Linked DNA regions of Homo sapiens. The protein of the gene in region 4 purifies or fractionates together with the protein of the main gene of each other region. This does not show direct contact. Each region holds a gene or a part of one and is shown on either strand. Other genes may lie near its edges.

Evidence for each region.
Region 1: the proteins of CAMK1D (region 4) and NUCB2 fractionate together in Homo sapiens (co-fractionation; one large-scale study listed by BioGRID). This does not show direct contact.
Region 2: the proteins of CAMK1D (region 4) and KLHL22 purify together in Homo sapiens (co-immunoprecipitation; one large-scale study listed by IntAct). This does not show direct contact.
Region 3: the proteins of CAMK1D (region 4) and DCPS fractionate together in Homo sapiens (co-fractionation; one large-scale study listed by BioGRID). This does not show direct contact.
Region 5: the proteins of CAMK1D (region 4) and NAE1 fractionate together in Homo sapiens (co-fractionation; one large-scale study listed by BioGRID). This does not show direct contact.
Region 6: the proteins of CAMK1D (region 4) and ITM2B purify together in Homo sapiens (co-immunoprecipitation; one large-scale study listed by IntAct). This does not show direct contact.
Region 7: the proteins of CAMK1D (region 4) and QPCTL purify together in Homo sapiens (affinity purification with mass spectrometry; 3 studies listed by BioGRID and IntAct, with this or other methods). This does not show direct contact.

The regions. Positions count from the first base shown.
Region 1 is NC_000011.10:17,275,606-17,279,772, forward strand, and holds the start of NUCB2 (nucleobindin-2 isoform 1 preproprotein), read left to right. Parts: upstream 1-1,133; 5' UTR 1,134-1,223; exon of another isoform or gene 1,224-1,247; intron 1,248-1,417; exon of another isoform or gene 1,418-1,692; intron 1,693-4,167. UniProt on the Homo sapiens protein: Calcium-binding protein which may have a role in calcium homeostasis. Acts as a non-receptor guanine nucleotide exchange factor which binds to and activates guanine nucleotide-binding protein (G-protein) alpha subunit GNAI3.
Region 2 is NC_000022.11:20,464,563-20,468,296, forward strand, and holds part of KLHL22 (kelch-like protein 22), read right to left. Parts: intron 1,015-3,734; coding exon 296-1,014; intron 1-295. UniProt on the Homo sapiens protein: Substrate-specific adapter of a BCR (BTB-CUL3-RBX1) E3 ubiquitin ligase complex required for chromosome alignment and localization of PLK1 at kinetochores.
Region 3 is NC_000011.10:126,302,410-126,306,913, forward strand, and holds the start of DCPS (m7GpppX diphosphatase), read left to right. Parts: upstream 1-1,650; 5' UTR 1,651-1,671; coding exon 1,672-1,872; coding exon of another isoform or gene 1,873-1,893; exon of another isoform or gene 1,894-1,913; intron 1,914-4,160; coding exon 4,161-4,335; intron 4,336-4,504. UniProt on the Homo sapiens protein: Decapping scavenger enzyme that catalyzes the cleavage of a residual cap structure following the degradation of mRNAs by the 3'->5' exosome-mediated mRNA decay pathway.
Region 4 is NC_000010.11:12,821,467-12,825,200, reverse strand, and holds part of CAMK1D (calcium/calmodulin-dependent protein kinase type 1D), read right to left. Parts: intron 737-3,734; coding exon 649-736; intron 1-648. UniProt on the Homo sapiens protein: Calcium/calmodulin-dependent protein kinase that operates in the calcium-triggered CaMKK-CaMK1 signaling cascade and, upon calcium influx, activates CREB-dependent gene transcription, regulates calcium-mediated granulocyte function and respiratory burst and promotes basal dendritic growth of hippocampal neurons.
Region 5 is NC_000016.10:66,820,929-66,824,662, forward strand, and holds part of NAE1 (NEDD8-activating enzyme E1 regulatory subunit), read right to left. Parts: intron 2,673-3,734; coding exon 2,601-2,672; intron 2,379-2,600; coding exon 2,299-2,378; intron 632-2,298; coding exon 522-631; intron 1-521. UniProt on the Homo sapiens protein: Regulatory subunit of the dimeric UBA3-NAE1 E1 enzyme. E1 activates NEDD8 by first adenylating its C-terminal glycine residue with ATP, thereafter linking this residue to the side chain of the catalytic cysteine, yielding a NEDD8-UBA3 thioester and free AMP.
Region 6 is NC_000013.11:48,260,483-48,264,216, reverse strand, and holds part of ITM2B (integral membrane protein 2B), read right to left. Parts: intron 3,079-3,734; coding exon 2,993-3,078; 3' UTR 1-2,992. UniProt on the Homo sapiens protein: Plays a regulatory role in the processing of the amyloid-beta A4 precursor protein (APP) and acts as an inhibitor of the amyloid-beta peptide aggregation and fibrils deposition. Plays a role in the induction of neurite outgrowth.
Region 7 is NC_000019.10:45,695,611-45,699,344, reverse strand, and holds part of QPCTL (glutaminyl-peptide cyclotransferase-like protein), read right to left. Parts: coding exon 3,627-3,734; intron 803-3,626; coding exon of another isoform or gene 799-802; coding exon 646-798; intron 564-645; coding exon of another isoform or gene 558-563; exon of another isoform or gene 545-557; coding exon 445-544; intron 1-444. UniProt on the Homo sapiens protein: Responsible for the biosynthesis of pyroglutamyl peptides.

The DNA.
Region 1 (4,167 bases), on a different chromosome or scaffold from region 4:
TTTTGAGACAGGGTCTCACTCTGTGGCACAATGATCATGGTTCACTGCAGCCTCGGCCTTCTGAGCTCAAGTGATCCTCCCGCCTCTGCCTCCGCCTCCTGAGTAGCTGGGACTACAGATGTGCGACACAGCACCTGGCAAATTTTTAAGTATTTTCTTCAGACTGAAACATCATTGTGTTAAAGATAAAAAAGTAAAAAATATTCTTGTAGAGATAGGATCTCACTGTTGTCCAGATTGGTCTCAAATTTTTGAGCTCAAGCCATCCTCCTGCCTTGGCCTCCCAAAGTGCTGGCATTACAGGGTGAGTCACCATGCCTAGTCTGTACTGTTTTCCTGGCAATGTTATCTCATTCAATCTTCGTGAATAACCCTAAGGTAGATATGATACCAATTTTTCAGGTGAAAAAAACTAATCGGCAGGATGAAACTTCGTAAACAGCCTGTGGCTCCAAAAGCTTCTGGAAGGCTCAAGCTACCCATGTGCATCTTTGAGCCTCAGTTTCCCCATCTTTAAAATGAGGGGTTTGGAATAGATGTCTGTTCTCTGGGGCAGGATGCAGAGGAAAGAGCTGTCTGCGAATGGGCAAGAGAGAAGGTGGGTAAATACAGTTAAACCACAGTGACCGAGGGCCCAGCACAACGGGGGTGGGTGCGGTTACAAATGCCGTTAAGATTCCCGCCAAGGCGGAGGACGGGGGTGTCAGAGCCGAGCGAGGCCTGTGGGCGAGAATAGGCCTGACAGCCATTCTCCGACCTGCGTGGGCGCTGCAGGCGCAGGCCAGAGGCCAAGGGAGAGGCGATCCCTGGGGCTCTGCCCGGGTCTCAGGACGGCACCTCACCCGCCCGAGTCCTGCTCCACAGGATTCTCCGGGTAAGCTAGGGAAGGAAGAGGCGCGGCCTCCTGAGCCCGCATCTCAGAGCGCCACGTCCCTCCTGGCTCAGCCTCCCACCAGGCTCCACAGCTTCGGCCCTCCTCACCGCCCGCCTCCAGGCTCCCCGGCGCGGCCTTGTCCCTGCTCCCGCCAATCGGCGTCGTCAGCAATCGCGAACCGGACCAATCAGCGGCCGCAGAGTGTGGGAACTGTCGCCATGGCAGCCAGGAGGCGGGCGCGCGCGGCGGGAGGAGGGGCAGAGCGGAGCGGTGGGCCGGGGGCTGGAGGACAGGTTTGTGCGCTGGACGCAAGCACCAGGCGCAGCCTCGCTCGCCGAGACCCGGCCAGGTAAGGCCGGTGGCCGCGCGGTAGGTGCGGAGCAGCGCGGCGGGAGATTAGGGGTGGGGGAGTCCGGAGATAAGGCTCCGGTCTTCGCCTGCCTTGCCAGAGCAGAGAGGATGGTGGGGGCCGTGCTGTGGGCGGGGCACCGGCGGGGAGGGGGCTCCCAGCGCGAGCCGGAGGCGCTGGGTTCCCTCTGCTCCACTCGCAGCTGGGCACCCGAGCTTTCTTCGGGGTCGAGGAGGGTGGCTGGCTCTTGGCGGGGAGCAGGAGAGGGTAGGTGCCAAACCGAGACCCTGGCGGGGTCCCTTCGGGTTTGGGCAGGTCGATGGGCAAGGGGGTGCCCACTAGTGAGGAGGGACACCCACCAATTCCAGGCGATGCTCCCCTGTGCCGCTCAGCAAAGCTAGGCCCGGGGATCCTGCTCTTCTCCGGTCTGGTTAAGCCAGCAACCTCTGACACTTAGGAGAAAGTTAGTGTAAGTCGTGATATGCTTTTCACTTAAGTGACAAATTAGGTACGAGATGAACCCTTTTGGTTTTAGGAGATGAGAAACAGTATTTCCTTGTTGCACCTGCTAAGTGGCAACTCAGTGAGCAAATATGGTTATTGTGGTTGGTGTTTGCAACGGTCTTAGATGACAGTTATTTTACAGTATCAAATGGCTGGGAGAGGGAGGGAAAGAAGGAGAGAGAGAGAGAGAATATGAGGGAATGAGAATGAACGGGAACCATTATGATTTTTGAGAGACAGAACCTCTTGAAATTCTATGTCTGCTAAACTTCTAAATTGAATAATGTACATTTTATGCAATTGAATAAGCTAGTGCTACCATTTAAGCCTGCTACTAAGGCTCTGTTAAATCCGTGGACGAATATGAACACTAAAAGATATTACCTTGGTTTAAAAATAGGGGAGGTTAAATGCAAATATTTCTGATAGTGAATTTTGTTTGAGGGAGATTGTGGACTTTCCCTATGGGAAAGTTAAAGAATTGATGAGATAGATGCTTTAAGGAATGTTTTTGTTTTTTGAAACTTGAATAAGTTCAACAAATGTTGAACAAATATTTCAACAAATCTTCTTCAGCTAATAGGGTCAAAAATTAAAATTCTGGAAATTTAGAATTAGAAATGAAATCTCAAATAATGTCACTCTCCTAATTAGGATGAACATGGAAACTTCTATTTCTCATCGTGGTCTTCAAGCTTTCCATGATCTCATCTACCTTTGTAGTAGGGGGTCAAATTTTTTTTTTAACTAGACAATTTTAGAAACTTAAAGGAGGCAAAAATTTATTTCTGTCTCCGTGTGTTTACTCATGCTCTTCTCTATCCAAATTTTACCCATCTTTTTTTTTTTTTTTTTTTTTTTGAGATGGAGTCTCACTCTGTCACCCAGGCTGGAGTGCAATGGCCCGATCTCAGCTCACTGCAGCCTCCGCCTCCCGGGTTCAAGGGATTCTCCTACCTCAGCCCATCGAGTAGCTGGGATTACAGGGACCCACCACCACAGCCAGCTAATTTTTTGTATTTTTATTAGAGACGAAGTTTCACCATGTTGGCCAGGCTGGTCTCGAACTCCTGACCTCAGGTGATCCACTTGCCTTGGCCTCCCAAAGTGCTGAGATTACAGGTGTGAGCCACCGTGCCTGGACGACCCATGTTCTAAGAGTCGAATCTGTCTATGTTGTGTTTACCTTTCTTTGCTCTCCCAAGGTACATATTGTTCATATCACGTATTTTGTATATATTCTTTCAGCATGCTTTTTGCCAAGTTGGTTTGCGCTCTGTGAATAACAGTTGAGATAAAATGCACAATTAAGACAATTAAGGTACTTTTCAAGACACAACTAATTATGGGCACTAATATCAATAACATCAATTCAGATGTCTTTTTTGTTTTGGGATATGTTATTAATCTCTGAACACATACTAAACTAATTTTGCATTACTTAGAATAATATGTAAATTACTTTCCACTTTCTAAGGACCCTTTTGAAGGCTGGGTTCTACAAAATACCCTTTTGAGTACTGGGTAGCTGGCAGAAGCAAGTGCAGGATTTAAAAATGTATTGAAAATAATCCTTTAGGCCGGGCATGGTGGCTAATGCCTGTAATCCCAGCACTTTGGGAGGCTGAGGCGGGTGGATCACTTGAGTCCAGGAGTTCAAGACCAGCCTGGCCAACATGGTGAAACCCCGTCTTTACTAAAAATACAAAAATTAGCCAGACGTAGTGGCGGGCATCTGTAATCTCAACTACTCAGGAGGCTGGAGCAGGGGAATCGCTTGAACCTGGAGGCGGAGGTTGCAGTGAGCCGAGATCGCGCTATTGCACTCCAGCCTGGGCAACTAGAGTGAAACTACGTCTCAAAAACAAAACAAAAAACAGGCTACTAACAATTTCAAATAATTTATTCAAGGAAAAACTTCAATCACTTTCATTATTTCCAATCAAAAATTTTTTTTACAACCATGATGTGGTGAAAAGTATACTTAGTTAGAATTTCATGGCCAGATTCCAGTACGGGCTCTGCCAAACGAACTTGGCCAAGTCAGTTAACTTCCTTCTGTATTTATAACCTTTTATAAAAGTAGGGCTGAATTAGATTACAGTAGTCCTCCTTTATCCTAGAGGGATATGTTCCAAGGGTCCCAATGGATGCCTGAAACTACAGGTAGTACCAACCCTTATATACGCTATGTTTTTTGCTATACATACATAATAATAAAATGAATAACAGTAATACACTGAAATGAAAGTTATATGAATGTGATCTTTCAAAATATCTTGTTTTACCTCAGGTAATTGAAACTGCAGAAAGTGAAATCGCAGATTAGGGAGGACTACTGTACCTCCAAGATTATTTCTGATCTTAGAATTCTCTGATTCTAAAATCCTAAAGCAGCCTAATAGAAGTTCAGATAGTAGTTACTTGATTTTATTTTTGG
Region 2 (3,734 bases), on a different chromosome or scaffold from region 4:
TCTCCTCCTGCACAATGCACTCGCAACCTAGCCTACCCCAAAGAGGCTGAGCAAGGGTCCAGGGTAAGTGGGTTTCTGAGGAGTAGGGGACATGCAGGAAAGAAGGCGATCCACATGTCCCCTTCTCTTATCTCACTGCTGTCCACCTTCTCTGAATTCACCTAGACTTCATTCCACAATGGCAAGTGATGCTCATGTGAAAGGCTGGGGGGAACCTGACCAGCTCTCTCAGCCCATGACTTCCACACCCTCTCATCACCTGAAGACAAAGGGACCAGCTAGCACCCTGTCCTACCTCCAGCATCGGGACTCTGCTCGAAATCCTTGGACATTGTTGTCCCCTCCAATCAAGTATACGAAGTTGTTGAGCACCGCGATGCCCTGGTTGGACATGCGGGGGGCCAGGGAGGCAGTGAAGTGCTTCCACTCTCCCAGTAAGGGGTTTAGATACTTGGCCTGGTCGCTGAGGACAGTGGACGGCGTGGAGTGAATGCCCCCGAAGCCCACAACGCACTGGAAGTCCGACCGCAGCTCCGTTTGCGGGCTCTGCAGGCTGGGCTGTAGGCTCTCGTTCCGGTGGTACATGAGGGCGCTGGCCACTGTGTCCCTCAAAGGGCTGGGGTCCAGCTTGTCATGCAGCCGCTGCAGGACCTCAGCTTCCATCAGCGGAAACCGCACTGTCTCAAGGAGCTTTGGGGGCTCGTGCAGCGAGATCTGGTCAGCCTGCACCTGCTCCAGGCTATAATGGTAGAGAAGGGCCCCCTCATATACCTCGGTCTCGCAGGAGACCTCCAGGCGATTGCTGCTGAGGAGGGAGTAGACCTTCTCCAATGGAAGCTGGCGGTACTTGTCAGTCCGAGAGAAGGCCACAAAGTTTTTGAGGATATAGGTGTCCAGTTGCTCAGTCAGGCGGCTCAAGTCAAACAGCTCTGCCAGCCGGTAGACATCGAGAATGTTCTCTTCGTCCACCCAGGACATGAGGAAATCACAGCAGAAATGGATAATTTCTGGGATCTGCAGAGAGAATGACACCCATTCAAGCCTGGGCTGGTGAACAGCATCTGGGGGTGGGAGAGAGAATGATGGCAGAAATACGGGCTGTTGTGGGCCAGGCAAAGCAGAAGGGAAGTCCTCCTTAATTGTCCCCGACCTTTTCTGACACACTGGAGACTGGGGCTTACTGCAGACTAGGTTTAAGTCCTGGTTTGGAAACATACTGGGTGACAGGATATACAGCATGTTTTTTTTTGGTTTTGTTTTGCTTTTCTTTGAGACAAAGTTTCGCTCTTGTTGCCCAGAATGGAGTGCAGTGGCAGAATCTCGGCTCACTAACACCTCCCCCTCCCGGGTTGAAATGATTCTCCTGCCTCAGCCTCCCGTACAGAATGTTTTTAACCTCTCTAAGCCTCAGTCTCCTCATCTATAAAACGGGGATCATTAAAGTGAAGAGGAACATGATGAAAATGAGAGAGCACATAGGAGTGGACCCTTGATATATGTCAGTTCCCTCTTAGATCAAAAGTACTGGCTCGGCCGGGTGCGGTGGCTCATGCCTATAATCCCAGCACTTTGGGAGGACAAGGTGGGTGTATCACGAGGTCAGGAGTTTGAGACCAGCCTGACCAACATGGTGAAACACCGTCTCTACTAGAAATACAAAAATTAGCTGGGCGTGGTGGCGCGCGCCTGTAATCCCAGCTACTCAGGAGGCTGAGGCAGGAGAATCGCTGGAACCCAGGAGGCGGAGGTTGCAGTGAGCCGAGATCGCGCCATTGCACTCCAACCTGGGTGACAGAGCGAGACTCCGTCTAAAAAAAAAAAAAAAAAAAAAAAAAGAAGTACTGGCTCTCCAGAAAAGCAGGAAGCAGCACAAATGGTCACTGTGTCATATATCTGTGGTTTGGAAAGGACCTAAGACCATCCCCATCCCTACCCTAGGATTCTCTGGAAGAGCCTGCCTCTCCAAAAGCGCTGGGACCAGAAACAAACCTGGCTTTTTCCCCCGCCAGAACATCCACCCTGGTTCCCTAGAAGTGCTCAGAGCCTCTCAGACACCTAACCAATACCCACCCAGGAACCTGATTTAGAATTATTTTTCTTTTTTCTTTTTAAAATTTGAGACAGGGTCTTGCTCTGTTGCCCAGGCTGCAGTGCCATGGCAAGATCATAGCTCACCGAAGTCTCAAGCTTCTGGGCTCAAGTGATCCCTGACTCAGGGTTCTTGAGGTTCCCAGCTGGGTCAAGACCCACTTGACTCCAGTAAGTGCAGGGGCTCCCAGGTGGCCATATCAACCCTTCCCAGCCATGGGGAAGCACTAGTGGTTTGAAAGGACGGCAAGAGAGAGAATGACACTGGAGGGAGGTGGGAACAAGGCCACAACCAGCAGGCTGTTAAAGGCCACCCTGTGAACAGACAACCAAATCTTGGGAGAATAGGAGACAAAGGGAAGGGCCCTAGGGAAAACTGCCTGGGAGAACAAACCAGGTGTTGATAAATTATTTAGGAAAGCAGGATTTTAGAGTTTCAGTGGGGCCCCCCAGTGCCCACCTCCTTTCTTTCCATGTTCAGATTGAAAATGACGAGTACCTTGACCTCTCTGTGACCCAGACAGCTGCAGGTTCTCCCAGCAGGCTTGAACCCAAACCAGGCCCTTGAACATTCCCAGGCACTGATAAAGGCATCAAGGTTGTTACCCAAAACACTGAAGGAAAAACTGGTTCTGGCCCTGAGACAAATTCCTTAAACCCTCATAGAAACTCCATACACTAACCCACTCTGTGGGCAAGCCTGGGTAAAGCCTCTCTTTTCCCTTGTCTGTCTTGAGGACATGCTACATCACTCTATACATAAGTTCCCCTAATAAACGCTCTGGCCAGATCACCCTGGTGTTTGATGCTTCTTTCTTTGGAATCCCAAAACGGCTCCATTTCAGGATGCTGTGGGGTCCCCTCTTGTGGGAACCCCCTTGCTACCAACTCCAGCCATGTGTTCAATGCAATAAATCAGTTTCTCTAAAAATGGGAATACCTGGCTTATCCAGGATCATCAATAAATTAACCATTACACATGGAATAATTCTGCTGGTATTTATGTATTTATTTATTTATTATTTTGAGATGGGGTCTCACTCTGTTGCCCAGGCTGGAGTGCAGTGGCACGATCTCGGCTCACTGCAAGCTCCGCCTCCCGGGTTCACGCCATTCTCCCACCTCAGCCTCCCAAGTAGCTGGGACAACAGACGCCCGCCACCACGCCCGGCTAATTTTTTGTATTTTTAGTAGAGACGGGGTTTCATCGTGTTAGCCAGGATGGTCTCGATCTCCTGACCTCGTGATCTGCCCGCCTAGGCCTCCCAAAGTGCTGGGATTACAGGCGTGAGCCACGGCGCCCGGCCAAGGTATTTAAAGCTTATCAATAAACACTAACTATAACTTTTTTAAAATTCAAAAGACATCTAATATTGCTTGCAAGGTGACATGCTAAGAGCTGGATGAGACCTACCAAATGTCAGGCAGGTATGTGCCCTACATGAGGTATCCCCATGGTGCTTTGCTAGGCCCTGACCAGCTTCACTTGACCTTCTTTTTTCCCTTTTTGCCAGTCTTCTGCTTTGCCACTTCTTCCCAAACTACTAGGTTTTCCTAAAATTCTGGTTTGTCATGGGCCAGGGTCCTGAAGACCAAGTTTTGGGCAGAATGTGAGCACAAACAGCCCTGAAGAAGCCTGGGCAGCA
Region 3 (4,504 bases), on a different chromosome or scaffold from region 4:
TGGAGTGCAGTGGCGCGATCTCAGCTAACTGCAAGCTCCGCCTCCCGGGTTCACGCCATTCTCCTGCCTCAGCCTCCCAAGTAGCTGGGACTACAGGCGCCCGCCACCACGCCTGGCTAATTTTTTTGTATCTTTAGTAGAGACGGAGTTTCACCACGTTAGCCAGGATGGTCTCGATCTCCTGACCTCGTGATCCGCCCACCTCGGCCTCCCAAAGTGCTGGGATTACAGGCATGAGCCACCGCGCCTGGCCTAAAGTAGTCTTTTATCCAACTCCTAATCTATATTTCTGGTAGAAGTAATCCAAAAATCAAACTAACACATGGTACACTTTGTTATTGACCAAAAACTGACTGTAAATTGCATCTTGTTGCTAACGTTGAGAATGGCAAAAACTGTCCCACACCCATGAGATCTGTCTGAAAACCTAAACTCAAATCACTGGCAAAATAAATGTGTGGCTGACTGAAGCGATGTAAGTACCAACTCTTTTTTTTTTTCTTTGAGACGTAGTCTCGCTCTGTCGCCAGGGTGGAGTGCAGTGGTGCGATCTCGGCTCACTACAATACTCCGCCCGCGTTCAAGCGATTTTCCTGCCTCAGCCTCCCGAGTAGCTGGGACTACAGGCGCGGGCCACCACGCCCGGGTAATTTTTGTATTTTTAGTAGAGACGGGGTTTCACCATGTTGGCCAGGATGGTCTCGGTATCTTAACCTCGTGATCCGTCCACCTCGACCTCTCGAAGTGCTGGAATTACAGGCGTGAGCCACCGCGCCTGTCCGTAAGTACCAACTCTTCACAAAATTTAGATCTGTTAAATAACACCAGTGAAAAACGGGCTAACCAGAAACAATGGTCACCAAAGAAACCCTCAACAGCAGAAGTTACAAGTAATAATTTTATATGGCAAAAAAAAAAAAAAAAAAAAAAAAAAAGAGAAACGAAACCCTGGGAGACGAATCATACTGCAAATCATATCCCTGGGTAGCAGGGCAGAAATACAGGTAAACAAAATAGAGAGGAGGGGGATGCCTCTAGCCCGGAAATAAGTGGGTGGTGGAGATGGTTCTTCTGGCCATATTCGTTTACCTTTTTTGTCAGCAGAAAAGTACTGAGTCTACAAAGTAAAAAACTGACCACGATGAAAATTTCTGCAAAGTAATTAAAATGGGAGAAAAATGGAAATGGCTTAAATACTCGGTATAAAAAATCGACCAAGGAATCAAATGGGCTCACGGATTTGCGTCAGAAACGTTGCTTCCCCGATAATTGGTCAACGTCGGTGTAACTATGATTAAAATGTCAGTATTCAAACAAGGGCTCCAACACTACCGTGGCCCAAGGGCGTCTTCGGCTCCCACCCCGGGGCGTGGGCCTGGGGGTCCCTCTTCACTGCGCAGCCACCTCTAGCCCGCCGCTTTCGGGACTCTCAGCCTTCTTTTCCCTTCCCTGAGGGCCGGCCGGCACCACAACGGGGCCAAAGGCAGTAACTCGGTTGAAAGGCGCGCCCTGGGACAGGTCAGCGGGCTCCGCCATGCGCGGCACGCATCCCGCAGGAGCGGGTGCCAGAGCAGGGTAGGCCGGGAGTTAGCAGCCCAGCCAGGCCGCTGGACTCGGGCTAGGGGCGGGGCCAGCGCAGGGGGCGCAGGCGCACACCGCCTCCGCGGCAGCATGGCGGACGCAGCTCCTCAACTAGGCAAGAGGAAGCGCGAATTGGACGTGGAGGAGGCCCACGCCGCCAGCACAGAGGAAAAGGAGGCAGGAGTTGGAAATGGTACCTGTGCTCCTGTCCGCTTACCGTTCTCCGGCTTCAGACTGCAGAAGGTGCTGAGGGAGTCTGCGCGGGACAAAATCATTTTCCTACACGGGAAGGTACCAGGAGGCAACCCTGAGGTGGGATGCGGGAAGCAGTGAACCAATCATCGCCTCGGAGGCAGATTTTTTTTTTTCGGATCTCGGCTGGAAAATACCAATCATTATCACTCCGGGGAGGCGGGAGTGCGCCACTAGAATGCATAGAGGGGCGGTGAAAGGCGGCAAGATTGCCTTTGAAATTAAGGCAATGAACACATCTAGCTCTAATTTTTCTAATGTCTCCACTAGAAATATCTACTGGGAGAGTGCATTGCAGATTAAAGATCACATGTTACATTCCCCAAGCCATTCATCATCCATTTATGTATACAGGGACTAGGAACCCAGTCAATGTTAGATGTCTCGCTCATCCCTGTCCGTGGAAACGACATGAGACTGTAGGAGATGTGATCTCTGCCTTACGCGACTTCAGCCGTAACAGGAGAACAATATATTATAATTGTTAATTCAGTTCTACGCACGCACTTTCATGCATGCCAGACACTAAACTAGGTACTGGGGATGTGGAGACGAAAGTTACCATCCCTGATCTTCAGGACTACGGAATATTTCTGGCGAGACAGATACACACAGCTTGCTCCAATACCAACGTGCTCAGCAATCTGGCAGGGGCTGAGGAGAGATGGAGACCATTCCAGGAACTAGTGAGGAGGCCTAGCCAGAGCAGATATGGGGGTTCCCCAGAAACTAGTGAGGAGGCCTAGCCAGGGCAGATAAGGGGGTTCCCTAGAACTACTAGCAGGAACTCTCACCTTTGGGAGGATCAGGGAACCTTGGCCTAGGCTTCCATGCCTCTGTGTGTATCTGGTTTTTAAATTTTTATTTATTTATTTATTTATTTTTGAGACGGAGTCTCTCCTCTCTGTCACCCAGGCTAGAGTGCAGTGATGTGATCTCGGCTCACTGCAACCTCTGCCTCCCGAGTTCAAGCTATTCTACCTGCCTCAGCCTGCCCAATAGCTGGGATTACAGGCCCCCGCCACCATGCCCAGCTAATTTTTGTATTTTTAGTAGAGATGGGGGTTTCACCATGTTGGCCAGGCTGGTCTCGAACTCCTGACCTCAGGTGATCCGCCTGCCTCTGCCTCCCAAAGTGCTGGGATTACAGGCGTGAGCCACCGCACCCGCCTTTTTTTTTTTTTTTTTTTTTTTTGAGATGGAGTTTCACTCTTCTTGTCCAGGCTGGAGTGCAATGGCACTATCTTGGCTCACTGCAACCTCCACTTTCTGGATTCAAGTGATTCTCCTGCCTCAGCCTCCCAAGTAGCTGGGATTACAGGCATCTGCCACCATGCCCAGCTAATTTTCGTATTTTTAGTAGAGACAGGGTTTCACCATGTTGGCCAGGCTGGTCTTGAACTCCTGACCTCAGGTGATCCACCCACCTCTGCCTCCCAAAGTGCTGGGATTATAGGCATGAGCGACTGCGCTGGGCCTTGTTTTTTGTTGTTTTTTGTTTGTTTGTTTGTTTGTTTTTGTTTCTTGTTTTCTGTTTTTTTGTATGCGATTCTGTCTGGTTCTCTCAGCCCAGCTGTCTTCAGTGTGCAGCACCTGTTGAAGGTGTTAGTCATGAGAGCCTTCGAGCTAGGAGTCACTTGGGAGACCTAGGTTCTGGTTTCTGTTTCAATGCTGACTGTTCATGTGACCTTGGGCAAGTCACTCAAGGTCTGTTTTTCATCTTCTGAAATGGGGAGAACTTGACAGAGGTCTTGTAAGCCTAAAATGGAAGACAACTGAGAAGCCTTGTATTCTGGGGAAGAAAGGTGTGAGAACTGCCACAAGGATTTGGGTGGAGATGCCTTCTCTGGCTGGGCATGGTGGCTCACACCTGTAATCCCAGCACTTTGGGAGGCTGAGGCAGGCATATCATTTGAGATCGGGAGTTCAAGACCAGCCTGGCCAACATGGTGAAACCCCATCTCTACTAAAAATACAAAAATTAGCCAGATGTGGTGGCATGCGCCTGTAATCCCAGCTACTCAGGAGGCTGTGGCGGGAGAATTGTTTGAGCCCAGGAGGTGGAGGTTGCAGTGAGCCAAGATCGCGCCATTGCACTCCAATCCGGGCAACAGAGCAACACTCCATCTCAAAAAAAAAAAGATGCCTTCTCTGAGAAAAGAAATGTGAAATGTGAGTGCCATTGGCTAGACTTCCCCAGAGGGAAGACTTCAGGGAAGGAAATCCCAAGTATTGGGAATTCAAAGGCCCTGGGAGCTTCTGTCTTGCTCTCCAGAGTCTCATCGTGGTTCTGCCCTTGAGCCCACTGATGATGCCTCTGCCCACAGGTGAATGAGGCCTCTGGGGATGGGGATGGAGAGGATGCCGTTGTGATCCTGGAGAAGACGCCATTTCAGGTGGAACAGGTGGCTCAGCTCCTGACGGGCAGCCCTGAGCTCCAGTTGCAGTTCTCCAATGATATCTACAGCACCTATCACTTGTTCCCTCCAAGACAACTGAATGGTGAGCAAGAGGTGGCCAGGGTGGCTGTATGGAGGGAGAATGGGATGGTGGGAAATTAGGTGGTATGGTGACCAGACTCTCTATACCCGATTTGCATATTCTAGTACAATAGGGAGATTACTTCCCTAGGGGACATTTGGCCATCGGTGAAGACATTTTTGATTGTCAG
Region 4 (3,734 bases):
CTGAAAGATTTAGGTTGGTGCAAAAGTAATGGCAATTTTAATGGAAGAAACCACAACTACTTTTGCGCCAACCTAATGATAGCATGTCCTATGAATACAGCAGGCCAGCAAAATTAATTTTGTTTCCGTCTCATCTTTCACCATTGGCCCTCATGGCAAAATAGCTAGCTCTGAATTGCCATTGCTGATTGGAACACGGAGGGGAGGTCAGGTAATCAAGAGATTAGGAAGTCAGGTAATCAACAGATGATCACAAAACCTCCATGGTTTAAATCTGTCAAACTTTTATCAGGAAACATTGATGAGTACAACTCAGATTTCCTGTTTTTTCCCCCTCCATATCGCTTTAATAAAAGTCAGCTATTCAAAGTTCTAGCAAGGTGAAGAAAGACAAGGGTGATGTTGGTTAAGAAACAGCAGATGAGGAAGAGCTGGCACTATTGCTGTCTTTGATCACAGAGGGGAAGTGTTGAATTGCACACTCCATCCCTCTTACACCATAATATTCCCTCTGAGTCTTTATTACTTGCAGTTAAAATTAGCAAAATTATTCAGGTGAGGTTCTGGGGATTTCAGAAATGCTCAGATTGGAGGGCCAGTGTCACGAGGGGGTTAATCCACGGGGAATTTCATATACTCCACACTTACTCTCCATTTGCTCTTGGCAAAGTTTTTCCGGATCTGGGCGCTGACGGACTCGTGGATGTTTTTGTTGAGGGCTGTGTCACCAGCGATCCTGAAACAGAGGCAAAGGTGCTGCTCTGAAGTGCTTCTTCTGGGCCCTGACACTGCGTCCCATAAAGGGGAGTCTTACCTAGCCTCAGGAGAGCCGAGGCTCAGTCGTGGACAGGGTGGCTGGCCGCTGCCCTTCCAGGCTGCTGATGTCATCACCTGGCCATTCCCTAAACCCACCCATTCTAACCCCTCACCACAAAGTCCTATTCCAGCTTCTACACTCCGCACCCTCCCCAGACCCGCCAGCGCCCTCCTGGTTGACTACTCCCCGGCTCTCATTTTTTCCTTCTTTGACCCCAATTCCTGCAACATCAGAATCCACAGTGACAATGTCTCCCATCCTTCTCCCTCCCCCTCATCCCCTCTGCCTCCACACAAGCTTTTGAGCCACCATGCGCCACCTCCAAGGTCTCACACTTGTTCCCCAACTGGTCTCAGCACCAGACCCCTTCCCGGCCTTGCTTCCCAGCTTCCTCAGACCCGAGGTCCCTCCTCTCTGTCTTCCCCAGGGGCGCTGCTCCCAGGGCACCACTCACACCCGTGGGCTCTCAGCTTCATCTCAGCAGAGCTGAGCCTGCCACATTCTGCTTGGCAACACCTGTGAGCCCATGCCCCCCACCCACTCTATGCTGGGTGACAGGATTCCCAGCTCCACTCAACCCCGCCTGGTACATCCTCCACCCTTGCATCTCCTTGAAATTCTTAGAACTTCAAGGACGGCGTCCACCCTGCATTCACCTGAGCCCTTGGCAGCCCCGGGTAAGCTTTAACTCTAGCTGATTCCTGAGCCTGCCATGAGCAGGGAAGAACTTAGGTTTGCTCCTGGCCTTCTCTCCTGACAGTACCCTCCATCCCACTCTTTCCTCCCTCTGCTGTCTCTTTCTTGGGTCTTACAGCCTCCTCCTCTCTCTCGGCTCACAATATCCAGGCTGAGAATTACCTGGCAGTCTCCCAGCTCTTCCTTCCCTCATGCATGCCCTTCTCGATCACAGCCTCCTCCTCTCCCTACAGGCATCCACTTGGCCTTTTCCCCCTGGGCCTCTGTGCTCTGCTCCCAGTCTTTCCTGGGCTTTGATCCTTCCCTCTTCCCTTCCCTCTAGCACCAAACTATTCAATTCTGGGTTACTATCTGATGGCTAAGAAAGAGTTTCATGAATCTTGCAGAAGTTAAGGGGATCAGAGTCAGAAACCAACGTTATGGGCTGGAAGGTAACTGGTAAGGGAGAAAACCTCTCACCCCTGAGACACTGACTGCCCTGGACATTAAACAGCCCAGACACGGCAACCATCACTTCCAACTACTTCAGGAGATGAAAGGAACACGGCTCAGGCATATTCAGACAAGAGAGAATACCAGCCAGACTTTCTTTCCCATCAGGACTGCAAACAGGGTGGACAGAGTCGATATAAAATTGGGGCCAGGCTGGCCTAAGTTTAGAATCCAGGCTGATGTTCCCAGCTCAAAACAACTCTCCCCCACCACCTTTTCCCAGCAGGGCTGCAAACACACAGCCAAGGGGACGTGCAGGAAATATCTCAAGCAAACTAGGTTTTCATTTCCAACAACTGTCAACTGCCTTCCTTCCCAGACACATATTCCTGAAACAGAAATAGAGTATTTGAATGGGCAACTACATCTGAAACAAGAGTAACAAGACAAAGAGGATGAGAGAATGAGAGACATCTTTATTAAGCTTTTTTCCCCGGAGAGCCCAAGGGAGTGATTCCTCCTGGACCCTGTTGAAAAGCTACATCCTCAGAAAAGGATGCCAGTCCAAGCTTGCAGCGGCCAGCTCTTTCTTAGAAACGACAAGGCCAAAGTGGTGGGGAGTCTGGAATTCCTCAGGCTGAGCACTGCTGCAGGGCAGAGCCAGGCTCCAAAGCAAACAGGCTGGTGCTGGGGTCGGGGAGACTCTGGGCCTCGGGGTCCACCTGCTTGTCCGCAGTGTGGTCTCAGACCCCACGGCCCGTGGCCTGCTGCCTATACTCTGTGTCCCATGCTATATCTGTGGGTTCACATGGGCCCAGATGTAAGAAAACAGAAGCTTCTAATTATTTTAGGAATGCTTCATGCTCATTTCCCACAGTCCTGGGCTGTGCAGCAGTGGGGAGTCCAGCTGGGCAGAAGGTGGCCCCCAGGCTCTGTGTTACACGGTCTTCCTGCAGCAGTGCAGCCATGTCAGGCCACAATAGTGCACCGTGGCCCTCCCCAAGTACAAGCCGCAATGACAACGGTGACCCATGCTCATGATAAGCTAGGAAACTTGCAATAGTAACATCCGGACAGCGCTGATGCTCAGTGTCACTAACTTCAGCACGCTTCGCCAACAAAACCAGAGGCATGGAGTCTAAACATTGGAAGGGATCCTAGTGGTCAATGCTTCTGATACAGCAGGATTGCTTTATCAATCCATATACACACACTTAGGCAACGCTATGGGTGAACACATTTCATTCATGTCTCCCTTGCTTTTCTGTTTTCTTTTTTTTTTGAGACAGAGTCTTGCTCTGTCGCCCAGGCTGGAGGGCAGTGGTGCGATCTCGACTCACTGCAACCTCCGCCTTTGGGTTCAAGTGATTCTCCTGCCTCAGCCTCTTGAGTAGCTGGGATTACAGGCATGCACCACCATGCCAGGCTCATTTTTGTGTTTTTAATAGAGATGGGGTTTCACCATATTGGCCAGGCTGGTCTTGAACTCCTGACCTCCAGCGATCAGCCTGCCTTGGCCTCCCAAAGTGCTGGGATTACAGGCATGAGCCACCACACCCGGCCAGCTTTCTGGTTTTAATACCTACAAGAACAATGCAGATAGCATTTACGTAATCACACCTTTTACAGCCTGTCTCACTATCCACCACTCACGGACCACAGCCTAGTCTCCCCTGCCTTTCGTGGTTTTGTGTTTTGTGTGTGGTCTCTTCTACCTTCCTGGCTCTGAGTCTGCGCTTTTCTAGCCACCTGCTCAAGATGGGCCTGGTGGTGCCTGGTGTGTACCCGG
Region 5 (3,734 bases), on a different chromosome or scaffold from region 4:
CATGGTGGCGGGTGCCTGTAATCCCAGATACTTGGGAGGCTGAGGCAGGAGAATCAGTTGAACCCGGGAGGTGGAGGTTGCAGTGAGCCAAGATTGTGCCATTGTACTCCAGCCTGGGCAACAAGAGCGAAACTCTGTCTTAAAAAACAAAAAAAAGACTGGAGTGGGGAAAGGTGGTGTAACTTCATGGGTCAGAGTGATCCACATTCCTTAGCTCTCCACAGCCATACATGCCCAATGTGGGTTAGGGGGCAAAAGAAGCTGGGTACTTGCATAGTTGCTGGATCTCCTAATAAGATGAAGAAGCTGTGCCTGTGGTATATCATGCTTTGTATCCTTCTATAATGCTACATAAAGAGTAGATTGCAGCCTATTGAATCTGATTGCCACTTTGAATCTGCAACTAGAGATGTGCTGCTACAAATTTACTTTGTAATTTAAAACTGACTTTCTAAATTGTCAAGTTTCTAAAATTATAGCTAAAGCAACCAATAGTAAGCCCATATGCTCAACAATTTTACCTGGATGTTCTTTTATAATGATCCTCATATAACCAACTAGTCCATATGTCCTACAGATCAAAAGAGGAATCTGGGAATTCCAGAGGACATCTGCTAAGCGTAGTGAAGTGCTGTTTAAAAAAAAAAAGCAAAATATGAACATAAGCAAATGGAAATATGCCAAACATGAAAACATGCAAAACATGAAAATGTCTTACAGCAACTTTCTTACTAAATAATAGATGCAAAGGTACATAACTGCATTTACATAAGCAGGTCAAGAACACACTGAAAAGCAAGCATTTCCACAGGCTGCAGTCTCAAAGAAAGTACATCTTTGGACAAGAGGGATGTGAAACTTTAGTCTGTCATATTAAGGAGAAACGTTAAAGAAAGATAATTCTAAACATTTCCATGATAGAGAAAAAATATAAAACCCACAAATACACCCCTAACAATTCCAATAACCAATTCTCTGTTGCCCAGGCTGGAGTGCAGTGGCATGATCATGGCTCACTGCAGCCTCGACCTCCCAGGCTCAAGTGATTCTCCCATCCCAGCCTCCTGAGTAGCTGGGACCACAAGCAGGCACACCATCTGGCTAAATTTTGTAGTTTTTGTAGACACAAGGTTTTGCCATGTTGCCCAGGTGGTCTTAAACTCCTGTGCTCAAGTGATCTGAACCTGTCTCAGCCTGGTTCTGCTGGAATTACAGGCATGAGTCACTGCACCCAGCCTTCAATAATCAATTCTAACTAGTTTTTAATCACTAAAACAAACAAAGAACAAAAACAACAACAACAAAAAAACAATGTTCGGTTTAACTGCTCTAAATATATTCCAAAAGTTTCACATCTAAGGTTAGGCTTGGTGGCTCCACAACTGTAATCCCAGGACTTTGGGTGGCTGAGGCAGGCAGATGACTTGGGGCCAGGAGTTTGAGATCAGCCTGGCCAACATGGTGAAACCCCGTCTCTACTACAAATACAAAAATTAGCCGGGCACGGTGGCACATGCCTATAATCCCAGCTATTTGGGAGACTGAGGCACGAGAGTTACCTGAACCCAGGAGGCAGAGGTTGCAGTGAGCTAAGATTGTGCCACTGCACTCCAGCCTGAGCAACAGAGCAAGACTCTGTCTAAAGAATAATAATAAAAAAAAAAGTTTCAGTATTTTTCTCTTCCTCATCTTTTCAATGCTGGAAGATTTCTAAGAATTTCTTTTATTTATTTATTTATTTATTTATTTTTTTTTTTTGAGACAGAGTCTAACTCTGTCACAAGGGCTGGAGTGTAGTGGCACGATCTTTGGCTCACTGCAACCTCCACCTCCCTGATTCAAGCGATTCTCTTGTCTCAGCTTCCCGAGTAGCTGGGACTATAGGCGTGAGCCACCACGCCCAGCTAATTTTTGTATTTTTAGTAGAGATGGGATTTCACCATGTTGGCCAGGATGGTCTCAATCTCCTGACCTCGTGATCCACCTGCCTCGGCCTCCCAAAGTGCTGGGATTACAGGCATGAGCCACCGTGCCCAGCCATAAATCTGAAACTCTTGACCAGGCACGTTGGCTCACACCTGTAATCCCAACACTTTGGGAGGCCGAGGAGGGTGCATTGCTTGAGCTCAGGAATTTGAGCTCAAGCTCAAAAAAAAAAAAAAAAAAAAAGTTTCATATTTAAAGTTTCTATAGAATTTAACAATTTTTAAAACCATATCATCATAGACTGTGCAAAGAAAATAAAACAATGCAAATCTAATAAGATTAAAATAAAAACATATTAACATAAAAATTTACCTTTCAGGAAGCTGAGTTGCAACTACAACAGTAAACCTACAGAAAAATGAGGGATCATTGTCTAGAAGGTTTTCTGGACTCTAAACAGGACAGCAAAGAAAAAAACAAACAAAAAAAACCAATTTCACAATCATATTAAACATGGCAGAGACAGTTAAGCTATTTTACAACAAATGAGGCAACAATTCCAATTCAACTAATCATAAATGACACAAAGATTCAAAATTCTAAATTTCTGGGGCTTTGAATTATTTAAAAAATTGTATTTCAGCACAGACATAATAATGTGTGTACATATATACCTCTTCCACAAAACTTCCAGAGACATCGCTATTTAATTCTTGTAAGAATTCCATGGCAGCTTCAGCTCGGTTCTTTTTAAAAACAAAGCATTTAACTTGAATTAGAAAAAACTTGGTCACAATATAATCCCCCAATTTATGGAACAGGCAAACATACTGTAAAACTATCCAAATTTCATGCATAAGTATGACAACTCTGTTTCCCTTCTTTTTTCTTTTTAGAGACAGGCTTTTGCTCTGTTGCCCAGTTTGTAGCATAGTGGCCTGATCATAGCTCACTGCAGCCTTGAACTCCTAGGCTTAAGCAATCTTCCTGCCTCAGCCTCCCAAGTAGGTGGGACTACAGGCATGTGCTACCATGCCCAGCTAATTTTTTAAAAAAATATTTTGTAGAGACAGGGTCTTGACATGTTGCCCAGGCTGGTCTTGAACTCCTGGTCTCAAGCAATCCTCCTGCCTTGACCTCCCAAAGTGCTGAGATTACAGGCGTGAGCCACTGCTCCCAGCCAATTCTGCTTCTCCTAGTGTTTAAGACTCAACAGAATATTACTTAAAACAGAGCAAAACCATCATCATCCAGAGTTCTCAAATGACATTACTTGTACTCTACTTTTTTGATTAGGCAAATGACCAAAAAACTCTGGGTAGCAGGCAGGGATATCCTGGATCAAGTTCAGACTCACTCTAACCACCCACATCTATAATCCTGTACAAGAGTGGTTAATCACTAAGCTAAAAGTCATTTCACTAAGTTGACTAACATGGTTTTGTAAGATTTTTTAGGCTGGGCGTGGTGGCTCATGCCTGTAATCTCAGCACTTTGGGAGGCTGAAGCGGGTGGATCACAAGGTCAGGAGATCGAGACCATCCTGGCTAACACGGTGAAATCCCATCTCTACTAAAAATACAAAAAATTAGCCAGGCGTGGTGGTGGGCGCCTGTAGTCTCAGCTACTCGGAAGACTGAGGGAGGAGAACGGCGTGAACCTGGGAGGTGGAGCTTGCAGTGAGTCGAGATCGCGCCACTGCACTCCAGCCTGGGGGACAGAGCGAGACTCCGTCTCAAAAAAAAAAAATTTGTTAACCAGAATGAATATTAACATTACTCAAGATTTAGCTTTAATACAGGATGCAA
Region 6 (3,734 bases), on a different chromosome or scaffold from region 4:
AAAAGGCACTGTCAACAACTGTACAGAGCTGTATGAAGCATTTTCATGCCTATTATTTTAATTCTCAGCCACCTCTTAAGCCAGATTCTCCAGATTCTCACTCCTGCATCACAAAAGAGCAATCACGGCCAACAACTTGTCAAGATTTATATAGTCTCATCTTGACTTCTGTACTTTTTTTTTAAACCAATGCAATAGGGGCAGAATGTGTTGCAAAGCAGCAAACTAGAGCTATCTTAGATAAATAAATAAATACACACACACACACATATGATGGGGTGCATTATGGAACTTGCTATGGTTTGAATGTTTGTGTCCCCCCAGAATTCATGTTGAAATCCTTACCCCCAAGGTGACAGTATTAGGAAATGGGGCCTTTGAGAGGTGTTAGGTCATGAGAGTGGAACCCCCATGAATGGAACTAGTGTCCTTGTAAGAGGAACCCAGAGTCATCTGTGATATAAGGTCACAGAGAGAAGAGAGCTTTCTGTGAGGAAGGAGGACCTCATCAGACACTGAATCTGCAGGTGACTTGATCTTGAACTTTCCAGCTTCTGGAACTGTGAGAAACAAGCTTCTGTTGTTTAAAGCCACTCAGTCTATGGTATTTTGTTATAGTAGCCCGAATGGACTAAGACAGAACTCAAGAAGAGGGAAGGATAGCTGAGTCTCCCTGGAACCCACTGGGAGACCTGGCAGTCCTCTCTGCATGTCTGATTCTCTGTCATCTTCTCATCCACATCCCTCACCCTCTGGTTTTTCCATGCCACACCAAGACCACAGTTTCCAGCATGGCACAAGGGTTCAAAGGGCACATTATTCATTCAGCCCTAGAATGAATAATGAGCCTGAAATCTCAGTTGGAGTTCCAAAATTCCTGGGACATGACTAAGCTTAGGTGAGAGGGGTACTCTCTACTCAATTGACTCTAAAGGAAATTATCAGAATAGTACTGGAAATGAAGTAAAATCATGGGTACCATGTTAGACCAATCTGGCCAAATCAATGATTGCAAATGTTGTGAAGAATTATCAAATGTTTTACTAAGATGATTATACAAAAACCTTTAAAAATTCAAATGAAAGAATTACATTTAGTAAAGTGTAAGTTTGGGTCCCTGGGAGTCTGGAGGTTGCCTGCCATACTGGACTGTGATGAAAGCATATTCCTACTGCATGAAGCCAGTGAGATGTTGGGATTATTATTGCAGTTCAGCTACCCTGATACTGCATTACTACTATAATCAACAGGAAAACAAACTAATAAGCTCCTTCCAAAATGCAAAACTTCAATAGTGGCCCATGGTCTACAGAATGAAGTCCTCAAGATGACATACATGGTCTTCTTCCATGACCTAATCCCATGCACTTCACATTCTGAAAGTCTCATTGACTCTCCTAAATGTTTTCCAAAGAACCTAGACCTGTTTTTCTCCCTCACACTACTGATCCCAATGTATTGTAATGAGTTGTTTGCTGTCCCTCTCTTTTCCTAGATTGTGAGTCTCCACGACGGCAGTGGCTTTTTTTCTTCTTTGCAGATATATCTTCAACACAATATCATATGTTGGGCATATAAAAGATGCTGAATGAATAATGTGCTCCTAAATGTTCACAGCTCCCTGAAAATTCATGTAATTTTAGAGCCTGGAAAGTAGGAAAAACCAATTCTCATTTTATTGAAACATATTGTCTTCTAAAATTGTTAATTCCTGAATACCCAACTCACTGACTTAAAGTTCTGACAATATTACTGAAATGAAATGAAAAGCCATGAGTAAATAATATCCTTTTGAATTAGAATTGGTTTCTAGACTAAATCCTTTAAGAGTTGGAAGCTTTAAAAACTCTGACCTCCTAAAGTCAGAATTGAAATTTTTTGTCTTAGGAACTTGAGGTGAAATGAATCATAGGTATTTTATTAAATGGGGGTGGATTCTGAATTATTTCAGAGAGGAAGCAACCTTAGAAACATAAAAATCATCATTATTAACTCAAAATGTTCCACTTGTGAGGCGGGCATTCTCAGAGAAGCACAGTTATTTTACGTTCCTTGGAAACTTTAGGCTTTGATTGCCTTTCCATCAAAAATAAAAGCATTTTATATTAAACAACATCATTCAAGGTTGAGGCTTAAATGTTACTTTAATAGTATCCACAAAGAATCTGGTTTAGTTATTAAAATGACTTATTTTTATTTAAAGAAAAAATCTGTGATTTTACTCATTGTATATATAGAAGTGAATTTTTAAAAAATAGTTTCTTCTTTTATGTGGATTCTCTTAAGATTTGAAGAACCAAACTATTCTTTGGTTTTATTATACGGGAAAAACAACACGCAGTCTAGTTAAACAACTTTGTGATATTTATATTCCATTGCACAGATATGGGTTATACAAATTAGTAACACAAGTTATTTCTTAAATTCCAAACATTTTCTAAAATATTATTACAGCAGATGCCTAGGATATTAAAACATAAAGGTGGAAATCATTCTCTAAATAGTTAAATATATTTGACACTGAAAATACTGCACATTTTAATTAGAGGAAAATTAAAATGTGTGCTCAAATGCACTAACAAACTAGGTAGCAGGGCAACTAACAACTACAAATAAGTCACTGTGGTCCATTTTTACGTATGCATATATATGATTATTCTCTAGATAATCCGTCTTCTTGAAAATGCTAATAAAACATAAAAATCCAGATAAATGATTTAAAGAAATTGTAATTCTTCCTACTACCTAAGGTGACATGTACTATTATCTATGACTTCATACAGTTACTAATTCAAATATAAAAGACACCACACTTCGAAAGAAAAAAATTTTAAGGTAATGGTTTTAATTGAATTAATGAGATGAAAAGATAGTAAAGCCCTGTTTGCTACTTACATGAAAGAAGACTTTAAAAAATAATCACTGCACAAAATGTAAAGGGTGGGGTTATGCTGTGATATTAATTTTCCTCAATAATGTTTTTCTTGACTGTTCAAGAACAAATTAAAGTTTCCACGGCAAATTTGTTTTCAAAATGCCGAATTGCGAAACAATTGCTGGCTTCACGTTTCTGAATACCTGTTGGAGAGGGAAAAAAGTTTTTTAAAATTTTGATTCTTTAATAATAAATATTCACATCATTTTTATAGTTATTATTTAGACATATAGAAGTATTTCACTCTATATTCCACAAAAACTTCTACAGTTTGAATGTTTACACTGAAGAAAAGTAATTTTTCTCCCTTTTCTGAACCAAGTATTAATATCTTGACAGATCACAGCAACATTAATAATGCTATCCAGACTGCTTACAAATTCATGAACTTGAAGGTATTGAAAATGTTCTGTATCTTGACTATGGTGGTGCTTGCAAGACCTTGTGTATCTTTGTGGAAACTCAGAGTTGCACACTAAAAAGGGTAAATTTCATGGCACGTGTAAGGCTGACTTTAAAAAAAATTATGAACCAAGAGAATTTTAAAATGTAAGAAATCAACACAGCAATAAAAAAGAAATCATGTCCTTTGCAGCAGTATGGATACAGCTGGAGGCCATTATCATAAATGAATTAACACAGAAACAGAAAACCAAATACCTACCTTACAATGCTCTCACTTATAAATAGGAGCTAAACACTGGGAACTCACTGACATAAAGATGGGAATGATACATACTGAGGACTATAAGGAAGGGAGGGAGGGAGGGAGGAGGTAAGGGTTGAAAAACTACCTATT
Region 7 (3,734 bases), on a different chromosome or scaffold from region 4:
TTAAGAGATGGGGTCACCAGGCACGGTGGCTCACGCCTGTAATCCCAGCACTTTGGGAGGCTGAGGTGGACGGATCACGAGGTCAGGAGTTCAAGACCAGCTTGGCCAACATAGTGAAACTCTGTCTCTACTAAAATACAAAAATTAGCTGGGCATGGTGGCATGCGCCTGTAGTCCCAGCTACTCGGGAGGCTGAGGCAGGAGAATGGCTTGAACCTGGGAGGTGGAGGTTGCAGTGAGCCAAGATCATGCCACTGCACTCCAGTCTCAGTGACAGAGCGAGACTCCATCTCAAAAAAAAAAAAAAAAAAAAGATGGGGTCTCCCTATGTGGCCCAGACTGGTGGATGAGCCTTTAGAGTGTAGGTGCCTGTCCTACCCCAGCCCACCGCCCTGTACCCCATACCCCAGGTGGGCTGGGGCCCACCTCCGCATTCACCCTTACCAATGCTCCTCAGCCGATGGAACCAGCGGACCGTGCGAGGGAAGTGGCTGTAGAAGGTGGGATTGGGGGCTCCCAGGAGATCAAGAAGCATAAAGAGCTCCTAAGGAGAAAGGCTAGGACTGGAGGGGCCCGTGCAGGATGACGCCAGCCCTGCTTAACCTGCTCCCTCCCTCGCCAGAAGCCAGGGGACCCTGGTCTTACAATAGCCTGGATCCTGGTGGGGCCGGGGCTGTGAGGTATAGACTCCATGAGCTGGGCCAGGTGCCGGGAACCGTAAAGGGAGTCCTTGGGTCCCCACTCCTTCAGCGCCTCTTCACCATCCAAGAAGAGCAGTTGCAGGGTCACCGGGGCTGCCTGTGGGAGCAGCAGGGGGGTGGCCAGAGCCAGCTCAGGACTAGCCCTCAGCCTCAACATACCCACACTTCTTGCCCGCTTGCATGCTTAAGAGAACACATAAGGTGTCCTCACTCATAGAACGTGGTAGCCAAGAGCACAGATTCCGAGTCAGTTGTCTGGGATCAAATCCGTACTTGGCTGCTTCATAACAAAGCAGGCATGGGGAAGTTACTAACTTCTGGAAGGATCAGTTTCTTCATCTATAAATGGGGTTAATAAGAGGTTTTTTGTTTTTTTTTTGTTTTTTGTTTTTTTTAGAATAAATCTTGCTCTGTCACCCAGGCTGGAGTGGAATGATGCAATCTTGACTCACTGCAACCTCCACCCCCTACCTCCCAGGTTCAAGAGATTCTCCTGCCTCAGCCTCCCATACAGCTGTGACCACAGGTTCCCGCTATCATGCCTGGCTAATTTTTGTATTTTTAGTAGAGACAAGCTTTCACCATGTTGGCCAGGCTGGTCTCGAACTCCTGACCTCAAATGATCCACCTACCTCAGCCTCCCAAAGTGCTGGGATTACAGATGTGAGCCACCGCGCCCGGCAATAACAGTTCTTTTCAAAGGGTAAGGTTTGAATCCAGGTCTTAGAACAGTGCCTGGCATATAACTAAATAAGGGTTATCTCTGATTATTATTCCTCAAGCTCAGTTTGGTGAACCAGATAGATCCACAAATGAATAATTATACAAACAGTGAAATGCAGTTGAGACAAATGCTTCTAAGAACTATAGAGTCCTGAGAGGGCATAGGAAGGAGGCTGGGGGATGACCTGGCCTGGAGAGGGCGTTGGGTCTTTTGGGAAGGGATGTTTGCCATGAGAATGGGTAGGAACTGGCCTGGCAAAATGGAGCAGGAGGAAGAGTATTCCCAGCCAAGGGAGCAACACAGGGCAAGGCTATGGCCAGGGAAGGGGTCCCAGAGGTTTGAGAGGGGTACGGAAGGTTTAGCAAGGGCCAAGGAGTGTGGGCTTTGTTATAGGGACACTGGGGAGGCACAGAGAGGGGTTAAGCAGGGCAGGAGCATGATTAAATCTGTGTTTTTCTTTTCTTTTCTTTTTTTTCTTTCTTTTTTTTTTTTTTGAGACGGAGTCTCGCTGTATCGCCCAGGCTGGCGTACAGTGGCGCGATCTCGGCTCACTGCAAACTCTGCCTCCCGAGTTCACGCCATTCTCCTGCCTCAGCCTCCCAAGTAGCTGGGACTACAGGCGCCCGCCACCACGCCCAGCTAACTTTTTGTATTTTTAGTAGAGACGGGGTTTCACTGTGTTAGCCAGGATGGTCTCAATCTCCTGACCTCACGATCCACCTGCCTTGGCCTCCCAAAGTGCTGGGATTACAGGTGTGAGCCACCGCACCTGGCCTGTGTTTTTCTTTTCTGTTTGTTTTGAGACAGAATCTCGCTCTGTCATCCAGGCTGGAGTGCAGTGGTGCGATCTCGGCTCACTGCAACCTCCGCCTCTCAGTTTCAAGTGATCCTCCTGTCTCAACCTCCCAAGTAGTAGGATTACAGGTATGTACCACCATACCCAGCTAATTTTTGTATTTTTAGTAGAGATGAGGTTTCCCTGTTGGACAAGCTGGGCTCGAACTTCTGACCTCAAATGATCTGCCTGCCTCGGCCTCCCAAAGTGCTGGGATTACAGGTGCGAGTTACCACGCCCGGCCGGGAAGGCCTCTTTGAAGGGGTGACATTGGAGTGGACACCTGAGTGAAGAGTGGGAGCCAGCCAGGAAGATATCTATGAAAAGCATATTCTTTTTTTTTTTTTTAAGAGACAAGGTCTCTGTCACCCAGGCTAGAATACAGTGGCACGATCATGGCTCACTGCAGTCTCAAACTCCTAGACTCAAGCCATCCTCCCCTCTCAGCCTCCCAAGTAGCATGCCACTACTCCCAGATAATTTTTTTTTTTTTTTGAGATGGAGTCTCGCTCTGTTGCCCAGGCTGGAGTGCAGTGGTGCAACTTTGGCTCACTGCAACCTCCGCCTCCCGGGTTCAAGCAATTCTCTGCTTCAGCCTCCCGAGTAGCTGGGGTTACAGGTGTGCACCACCAAGCCTGGCTAATTTTTGTGTTTTTGGTAGAGATGGGGTTTCATCATGTTGGCCAGGCTGGTCTTGAACTCCTGACCTTGTGATCCACCCACCTCAACCTCCCAAAGTGCTGGGATTCCAAGTGTGAGCCACGGAGCCTGGCCAGAAAAGCACATTCTATCCAAAGCAAACAGCAAGTGCAGATGCCCTGAGGTGGGAGCAAGCTCTGCGGGTTTGAGGAACCCAGAGGAGGTGGGGGTGGCTACAGCAGAGTGAGCAAGAGGTGAGGGGTGGGAGATGAGGCTGGAGAGGTAACAGGGCACAGCTCGTGGGCCAATATAAGGACTCTGGATTATGGCTGGAATGAGGCGGGAGCCCTGGGAGGGTTTGGGGGAGAGGAAAGAGAATCTGACATCTAGAAGGTAAAAAGATCCCTGTGATGACCAGGCGCGGTGGCTCACGCCTGTAATCCCAGCACTTTGAGAGGCCGAGGTGGGCAGATCACCTGAGGTTGGGAGGAGAATTGCTTGAACCCAGTAGGCAGAGGTTGCGGGGAGCCAAGATCTCGCCATGTGCACTCCATCCTGGGGAACAAGAGCGAAACTCCGTCTCAAAAAAAAAAAAAAGATCCCTGTGGCTCTGTGCGTGGAGTAGAGTGGGAAGACGAGAGGGATGACAAATGTCCAGGCAAGGGAGGGTGGGGGCTTGGGAAAAGGTGGAGGTAGCCCACTACCCTCCCCGACTCCTGCTCCTCACCTGTTTTTTGGCCCTGCTCAGCTCCAGGTCAAGTGCTTGGGCCAGCTCCAGCAGCAGGGCACAGGGCACAGCCGAATCCGTGGCCCCTACAAAGGGGGTCGATCCGGG